Linked DNA regions of Homo sapiens. The protein of the gene in region 1 interacts with the protein of each later gene in a pairwise test. Each region holds a gene or a part of one and is shown on either strand. Other genes may lie near its edges.

Region 1 (4,670 bases):
TCACCATTTCTGTTTTACAGATAAGGAAATTGGGCCTTATGAGCTGTCACGCCCCAGATCATGCAGCTTGCAGGGCCCAAGTGACTCAGCCTCAGTGCTCAGTGATCACATAGGCTGCCTCTCAATATTGGTTCTTGAGAGGCTGCTTACTGGGGTCCCTTTTCCAGGGAGAGTGGCAATGCTGGGAGATCACCTCTGAGGCCTCATCCAACTTTGAGAGCCCACGAGTGTATTAAAATGAGAAGGGAGCTCAAGTCCAAGCTCTTTGTCCCAACTCCCAAGACCCTTACTTAGCACCCAGCCAACCCTCAACATGCCCCTCGCCTTGCGCTCTGGTGGGCACTGGAGGGCACTTCCGAGCTCTGTAACCCTGGGCCTCTATGGGCCTCAGCTTCCTCTTCTGTACAATGAGGACGATAAAAGTTTCCACACTTCACAGGGCTGCTGTGAGGCTTGGAGGAAGCGTTTGGCAGATGGTGGCTGTTGTTGTCCCTAGCACCGCCTACTCATCGCTGGGCTCAAGCTGTGCCCACTCACCCCTACCTCCTCCAAGAAGCCTTGCTAGGAGCCACCCCCAACCTGCCTTGAGGCTGCATGCCTGGAGCCCTTGCACCTACTCCCTTGGCCCTCGTCACAGGCCGCTGCTTTCTGCTTGCTTGTTTGCCTTCCAGCCATGCTGGGCACCCCTTGAGCTCAGGAGCATTGAGCCCTGGGCCTGGCCCAGAGTGGCTGGGCCACTAAAAGCAGGGTTGGATCCTGCTTTCCAGAAATGTCTGAGCACCCGTGCTCTGCTAGGCCCTGCCCATCATGGCGATGCCCACGCCCAGGGTCCTGCCATCCTCAGGCTCAGACTCAAGTGAAGAAGACGGGGCGGCAAATGGCGACAATGGCATGTGTAAGTATCACTGTGGGGGCTGTGGAGCCCAGAAGAGGGCCAGACCCTACCATGCTCAGTGGAGAGGTGGCAGCCCCTCACTGCACAAGTGCCCAGGGCACCCCGGCAGCTCACGCGGTGCCGCCCTCCATGTGCCTGCCCTTGACCCTCAGGCAAAGACGGCTGCAACAGGAAGTGGAACCACTATTACCACACACCTGCAAGCCAGGCCCCGCTCTGGGGACTTTACTGCAGTCACTCTGCTCTTCAGAGGAGCCAGTGCAGGAAAGGAGGCCCTGCAGGTCTGGTCCCCGCCAGAACACTCAACCAGCCTGTGGACTGGCAGGATCTGAACTCAGGCCTGCCGGGTCCCACCTGCAGCTCTCTCTGGCCCCTGCCATTGAGCTACGCACCACCCTGTCCCCACCTCATCATGTGCAGATGACTGTTCCAATGTGCTCTGATCATCCAAGCCTGGGCACACGGGCATCACAGCCAATCACATGCAGCTACACACACCCTTGCCCATGTGCCAAGCACTGGGACATGCATGACAACAGCTAGGTGACAGTGGCTGTCACAGTTTATTACCACATCCATTCAGTGGCCCTAGGAGCCCGTCAGCACGACTGAGGAGGAAATGAACTCAGAGGGGGTCAGCGATCTGCTGATCTGGGGTCTGACCCGACCTGAACCCTGCCTCAGCCAGAGCTTTTAGCCCCTTCCCTCAAGCAGAGCCCTCCCCACAGAGCAGCACAGCCCACACAGGGCAGTCAGAGTTTGCTGGCGGAGGTTGGATTTGCCCTGAGCTTCAGAGGGGAGGGAAGCGGGCAAGGCGCTCTGTGGGGACAGAGCAGGAGCAAAGGCTGGAGGCAGAAGTGCAGGTGGGGAGGGGTCAAGCCAGGTGGCTCTGGGATTGAAGGGCAAGCCCAGGGGCAAGTCACGCAGGCTGCGGAGTCAGGGGGCCTCCAACCCAGACTCAGGAGTGTGGGGCTTGAGAGGAAGGAGGGAGGCGTGTGGGGTGCTGGCAGGGAGAGGTGGAGCCATGGAGGGAGGCAGGGACTGACTTGGGTAGGGGAAGTGGGGATTTCAGAGGGGGATGAGAGGGTGAGGATTCTCAGGGGAACAGGGAAGTAGTGAGGAGTGAGGAGCTCAGAGATGCAGAGGGTGGGGGGGAAGGGAGAACTTCAGAGCTGACCAGAGCTCTCAGCCCCGAGGCCCAACACCTGGCCCCAGTGGCGTGTGACCAGAGCAGGACTGTCCCTTTCATGTCTCCACAGACCCTGAAGCACCTGGCACAGCATGCTCTGTGACGCTGGCAGAGAGAGGGGGAGAGTGAGCGATCCAGCCTGAGGCCAAGCCCCTTCATGGCCCCACCGGCCCTCCTCCCTAGGAGTCCCAGGCTCCAGGAAGTTTGATCACCCCACTGGCTCGGCACAGACGGCCCTGGCTCACCCTCCACAGGCCTCCACCCCAGCGCCTGTGGGAGCCTCTCCAACAGAGGGAGAGCAGAGCAATCAGCCGAGTGTCAGGCAGGCCAGCGGGGGCCAGGCTGTGAGCCTGAGGCCCCTGGGCGGAGCAGGGTGGCACCTGGGGAGAGAGGAACGGGGACGCCGGAGAGATGTCCCAGGAACAGAAGCTGCTAGCGACGAAAAACGTCATTCATCTGGCAGAAAGAGCCGAATCAAGGCCCCCCGCCCATGCTGAAAAAATCAAAGAACAAAAGAAGGAAGAGAACGCACGGAGGGACCACAGATATGGCCAGGGCCTCCAAGATGGAGGGCAGGGTTTTTCACAAGTTACTTTGACTTGAGGCACTCAGAGCACAAACAACCAAACAGGGCAGAGTAGGAATCCACAGAGCCAGGTCCAGAAACCAGCCACCTGGCAAGGAGCAAGGAGGTCCCCCCTGGCCAGGAGGAAGGCTGCCCTGCAACAAGATGGCAGGCCTACCTGAAGCCTGAGCCCAGCCCGCCACAGCAGGGCCCAGGGTGCGGCACTTGTGGGCCTCTGGCCTAGATCCAGGATAGACATTCTCAGAGCACCTGCAGCCACCCAATAGGGCCTCACCTCTCACTCATGCCAGGGGTCCCTTGAGAACTCTCCCCACGACACCCACCCTGGGTTCAGTTAGAGCTTTGGAGTTGGCATGCCTGGGCCTACAGTGCCCTGGGCAGCAGGGACACGCTCCCCTTCCTAGCATCATAGGGACTGCACAGCCCCCAGCTTTGCTGTGTCCCAAGTGTACTCAGCATCTTTCCCGCAGCTGTGCTCCCTCGGGTTATCCCTGACTCCTCTGGTCCTCTCCCTCATGTAAAGACACCAAGGCCACGGATTCTACTTAAATCTCTCTGCCCATCCCTTCTCACCATCCCCACCCTCAAGCTGGGCATCATCTCATCTTCTGCCTCAGTGACCAACTGCCTTACAGTGGGCTGTCAGCCTTAAGTCTTGCCCCTCTTCCCTCAATAATGAGTCCACAGACTCCTTAAGTGCCTCCCTTTACCCATCTGTGAAATGGAGTAACTCCTGGCCCCTGTCAAGGCTATGAAGATGCTGGCAGGGCACAGTGGCTCACAACTGTAATCCCAGCACTTTGGGAGGCTGAGGCAGCAGGATCACTGGCATCCAGGAGTTCAAGACCAGCCTTGGCAACGTAGCGAGACCTCGTCTCTACAAAAAATAAAGAAAATCAGCTGGGTGTGGTGGCACGTGCCTGCAGTCCCAGCTACTCAGACAGCTGAGGTGGGAGGATCACTTCAGCCCAGGAGGTTGAGGCTGCAGTGAGCCATGACTGTGCCACTGCACTCAGCCCAGGCAAAAGTGAGACCCTGCCTCAAAAAATAAAAAGAAAAATAAAGAAAAGAAAAAAGAAAATGCTTTGAAAGCTGCAAATGGCTGGGCGCGGTGGCTCACACCTGTAATCCCAGCACTTTGGGATGCCGAGGCGGGAAGATCACGAGGTTAGGAGTTTGAGACCAGCCTGACCAACATGGCGAAACGCTGTCTCTACTAAAAATACAAAAATCAGCCGGGCATGGTGGTGGGCGCCTGTAATCCCAGCTACTCAGGAGGCTGAGGCAGGAGAATCGCTTGAACCCAGGAGGCAGAGGTTGCAGTGAGCCGAGATTGTGCCATTGCACTCTAGCCTGGGCAACAAGAGCAAGACTCCATCTCAAAAAAAAAAAGAAAGCTGCAAATGGCACAAAAATGGGAAGTGATGTTTTGAGAACAAGCAGTGAGGGCGTTAGACCCTGAGATCTGGGGGGATCCAGCCAGAGCCCAGGCCTAAACAGGAGGCAGGATTCTCATGTTTGGAATCTGGGTTTTTACCTAGCAGGAAACCAAGAAGGTGTCGTCATCTTCCAAATGGGCCCCTTGGAAGCTGTGCTCCTATTCCCGTGGGACCCCTGCCCTCAGACTTTGGAAACAACAATGGCTGCAAGGCCAGAGCTAGGCGCTCTGCGTTTAACTCATTTGCTCCTTGTAACTCCCAGGGAAGAACACTCCTGTTTTGTTGATGAAGTGAATAGAGGTCATCTGCCCAAGTCACACTTGGGATAGGAGGTAGAGTCGAGTTGAGGGCCCAGGTGTGCCTGACTCTAGAGCCTGGAGAAGCATCTTTTGGGTGACAATCTCCATTCTTTGAAGAGAATGGGCCTGGTTTTCAGAAATGGCCAGTTTTATGGACCCAAATCTGTGGGTCTATAGGAGGGGACTGTGGGAGGAATCCCTCTAGATATTAGAAGTTAAAAATAAGACATGGTAGGCCAGGCGTGGTGGCTCACACCTGTAA
Region 2 (4,670 bases), on another chromosome or scaffold:
CATGGTGGCAGGTGCCTGTAATCCCATCTACTCAGGAGGCTGAGGCAAGAGAATTGCTTGAACCTGGGAGGCGGAGGTTGCAGTGAGCTGAGATCGCGCCATTGCACTCCAGCTTGGGGAACAAGAGTGAGACTTCATCTCAAAAAAAAAAAAAAAGAAATACAGTGGATTTTTTTATGTTAATCCTGTATTGATTGCTGAATTGGTTTATTAGTGCTAATAGGATTTTTTATGCACTATTTAGGATTTTCGATATATACAATCATATATATTCAATATATACAATTAATATATATGTGAATAGAGATAATTGTAGTCTTTGTTTCTAGTTTGCATGGCATTTATTTCTTTTTCTTGCTTAACTGCCTTAGCTAGAACTTCAAGTACAATGTTGAATAAAAGTGACTAGAGCGGGCCGGGGGTGGTGGCTCACACCTGTGTTCCCAGCACTTTGGGAGGTGGAAGTGGGCAGATCACTTGAGATCAGCAGTTTGAGACCAGCCTGGCCAACACGGCGAAACCCCATCTCTACTAAAAATACAAAAATTAGCTGGGTGAGGTGATGTGCACCTGTAGTCCCAGCTACTTGAGAGGGTGAGACATGAGAATTGCTTGAACCTGGGGGGCGGAGGTTGCAGTGAGCCAAGATCATGCCACTCCACTCCAGCCTGGACGACAGAGCAAGAACCCTGTCTTTAAAAAAAAAAAAAAAAAAAGTGGCTAGAACAAACATCTTTATCTTGTTCCTGATCTTAGGTGGAAAACTTTTTTGTTCCTGATATTAGGTGGAAAACTTTTAGTCTTTCACTGTTGAATATGATGTTACTTGTAGGTTTTCTGTAGATTCCCTTTATCGAGTTGAGGAAATTCTCTTATATTCATAGTGTGTTGAGTGTTTTTTATCATGAAAGGGTGTTGATTTTTTTTTTAAAGATAGGGTCTTGTTCTGTCACCCAGGCTGGAGGGCAGTGGCATGATCATGGCTCACTGCAACCTCGAATTCCTGGGCTCAGGGGATCCTCCTACTTCATCCTCCTGAGTAGGTGAGACTACAGGCATGAGCCACCATGCCCAGCTAATTTTTTAATTTTTCTGTAGAGGTAGGGTCCTGCTTTGCTGCCCAGGCTGGTCTTAAACTCCAGGGCTCAAGCAATCCTGCCTCAGCCTCCCAAAGTGCTGAGATTACAGGGGTGAGTCACTGCACTGCACCCAGCTGTGTGGGATTTTTCAAATGCTTTTTTCCTTTAGATGATCATGTGTGGTTTTTTTCCTTTCATTTTGTTAATGTGGTATATTGATTTTCGTATGTTGAACCATCCTTGAATTCCTCAGATAAAGCACGCATATTCATGGCGTATTATCTCTTTATTATTATTATTTTTGTAGAGATGAGATTTCACTCTGTTGCCCAAGCTGGTCTCAAACTCCTGGGCTAAAGTGATCCTCCTGCCTCAGCCTCCGAAAGCGCTGGGATTATAGGCATGAGCCACTTGGCCCTATCTTTTTTCTTTTTCTTTTTTTTTTTTTTTGAGACAGAGTCTCACTCTGTCGCCGGGCTGGAGTGAGTGGCGCGATCTCGGCTCACTGCAACCTCCATCTCCCGGGTTCAAGCAATTCTCCTGCCTCAGCCTCCTGAGTAGCTGGGACTACAGGTGCCCGCCACTATGCCCAGCTAATTTTTTGTGTTTTTAGTTGAGACGGTGTTTTGCCATGTTGGACAGGCTGGTCTTGCACTCCTGACCTCGTGATTCACCCACCTTGGCCTCCCGAAGTGCTGGGATTACAGGCGTGAGCCACCGCAGCGAGCCTTATCTTTTTAACAGTTAAAAGTTTAAGGCCTTATCATGTAATAACATTGCTGGATTTGATTTGCTGCTGTTTTGTTGAGAATATTTGCATCTGTATTGATAAGGGATATTGGTCTGTAGTTTTCTTTTCTTGGCATGTCTTTGTATAGCTTTGATGCCAGCATAATATTGGCCTCATAGAATGAGTTAGGAAGTATTCTTTATATTATGGGAAGAGGTAAAAAGGGATTGGTGTTAATTCTTCTTCAAATGTTTGATAGAATTCAACAGTGAAGTGATATATACAATCATATATAGAGAGAGAGAGAGAGAGAGAGAGATGGACTTTTCTTTTGTTGGAAGTTTATTGACTATTGATTCAATTTCCTTATTGAAATTGACTTTTCTTTTTGGAAGCTAAAACGTATAACTGTAGTGAAAGTTTCTGAACTTTTCTTTCATTGGAAGTTTTTTGACTACTGATTCTTTATTTGTTATAGGTCTATTCAGATTTTCTGTTTCTTCTTGAGTCAGTTTGGTCTCGCTCTGTCGCCCAGGCTGGAGTGCAGTGGTGCCATCTTGGCTCACTGCAACTTCTACCTCCCGAGTTCAAGTGATTCTCCCACCTCAGCCTCCCCAGTATCTCGGACTACAGGCGCACGCCAGCATACCTGGCTAATTTTTGTATTTTTAGTAGGAACAGCATTTCACCATGTTGGCCAGGCTGGTCTCGAACTCCTGACCTCAGGTGATCCACCCGCCTCGGCCTCACAAAGTGCTGGGACTACAGACATAAGCCACCGCGTCCAGCCTTGAGTCAGTTTAGATAGTTTGCATGCATGTTTCTAGGAATTTGTCCATTTTGTTTATGTTATCTAATCTGTTACCATACAATTGTTCATAGTATCCTTTTATAGCCCTAGTTATTTCTGTAAGATCAGTAGTAATAGCTCCACTTTCTCTCTTGGTTTTAGCAATTTGAGTCATCTCTTTTCTTCCTCTTTTTTTTTTTTTGAGATGGAGTCTCACTGTGTCACCCAGGCTGGAGTGCAGTGGCATGATCTTGGCTCACTGCAACCCCTGCCTCCCAGGTTCAAGCAATTCTGCCTTAGCCTCCTGAGTAGCTGGGATTACAGGTGTGAGCCACCACACCCAGCTAGTTTTGTTTTGTTTTTTTGTTTTTGAGACGGAGTCTGTTTCTGTCTCCCAGGCTGGAGTGCAGTGGTGCAATCTCACTCATTGCAACCTCCGACTCCCAGATTCCAGCAATTCTCCTGCCTCAGCCTCCTGAGTAGCTGGAACTATAGGCGTGCACCACCACGCCTGGCTGATTTTTATATTTTTAGTAGAGATGGGATTTCACCATGTTGGCCAGGCTGGTCTTGGACTCCCTACCTGAGGTGATCCGCCCACCTTGGCCTCCCAAAGTGCTGGGATTATAGGCATGAGCCACCATGCCCAGCCAGTTTTTGTATTTTTAGTAGAGATGGGGTTTCTCCCTGTCGGCCAGGCTGGTCTTGAAATCCTGACCTCAGGTTATCCACCAGCCTTGGCCTCCCAAAGTGCTAGGATTACAGGCATGAGCCACCACGCATGGCCTGTCTTTTCTTCTTGGTCATTTTCGCTAAAGGTTTGTCAATTTTGTTGATCTTTTTTGTTGCTGATCTCTATTGTTTTCCCATTCTGTTTCATTTATTTCCATTTTAACCTTTGTTTCCTTTTTTCTGCTGGTTTGGGTTTAATTTGCTCTTTTTTTCCCCTAATTTTTCAAGGTATACAGTTAAGTTATTGATTTGAGATCTCTTTTTTCTTTTCTTTTTTTTTTTTTTTTTTTTTTTTTGGTTGCTGTTGAGATGGAGTCTCCCTCTGTCACCCAGACTGGAGTGCAGTGGCATGATCTCAGCTCACTGCAGCCTCCGCCGCCCAGGCGATTCTCCTGCCTCAGCCTCCTGAGTAGACGTTTCCCGGCCAAGGTGTTTCTTTTTGAATGTAAGCATTTACAGCTACAGATTTCCCTCTAAACACTGCTTTCACTGCATTCCATAAGATTGTTTTTTGTTGTTGTTTTGTTGTTTGAGACACAGTCTCACTCTGTTGCCGTTTGGAGAGCAGCGATGCGATCATAGCTCTGTAGCCTTGAGCTCCTGGACTCAATCAGTCCTCCTGCCTCAGCCTCCCAAGTAGCTGGGACTACAGGTGTACACCACTGCACCTAACTAATTTCTTTTATAAGTTTTTGCAGAGGCCAGGCACAGTGGCTCACACCTGTAATCCCAGCACTTTGGGAGGCCAAGGTGGGTGGATCACCTAAGGTCAGGAGTTCGAGACCAGCCTGGCCGACAGGGAGAAACCCCATCTCTACTAAAAATACAAAAATTAGCTGGGCGTGGTGGCAGGTGCCTGTAATCCCAGCTACTCAGGAGGCTGAGGCAGGAGAATCGCTTGAACCTGGGAGGCAGAGGTTGCAGTGAGCCAGGATCACACCATTGCACTCCAGCCTGGGTAACAAAAGCAAAACTCCATCTCAAGAAAAGAAAAAAAAAAGTTTTTGCAGAGACAGGGTATCACTTTGTTGCCCAGGCTGGTCTCAAACTCCTGACTTGAAGGAGTCCTACTGCCTCGGCCTCCCAAAGTGCTGAGATTATGGGCAAGAGCCACCGCACCCTGCCACTTGGCTGTTTTGTTCTGTTGTATTTCCATTTTCATTGATCTCAAGACATCCTAATCTCCCTTTTGTTTTTTTGTTCGACTTACTCGTTATTCAAGAGTGTCTTTATTTCTGCATATTTGTAAATTTTCCAAAAAAGTTTTTCTTTCTTTCTTTTTTTTTTGAGAAAGGGTCTTGCTCTGTCGCCCAGGCTGGAGAATGGTGGTGCACAATCT

What was found. Proteins that work in one complex are often made in the same cells at the same time.
Region 2: the proteins of UBXN11 (region 1) and ZGPAT interact in binary tests that used the Homo sapiens proteins (3 or more experiments, as listed by UniProt).

Annotation. Positions count from the first base shown.
Region 1 is NC_000001.11:26,288,804-26,293,473, forward strand, and holds part of UBXN11 (UBX domain-containing protein 11), read right to left. Parts: intron 1-4,670. UniProt on the Homo sapiens protein: May be involved in the reorganization of actin cytoskeleton mediated by RND1, RND2 and RND3. Promotes RHOA activation mediated by GNA12 and GNA13.
Region 2 is NC_000020.11:63,713,731-63,718,400, forward strand, and holds part of ZGPAT (zinc finger CCCH-type with G patch domain-containing protein), read left to right. Parts: intron 1-4,670. UniProt on the Homo sapiens protein: Transcription repressor that specifically binds the 5'-GGAG[GA]A[GA]A-3' consensus sequence. Represses transcription by recruiting the chromatin multiprotein complex NuRD to target promoters.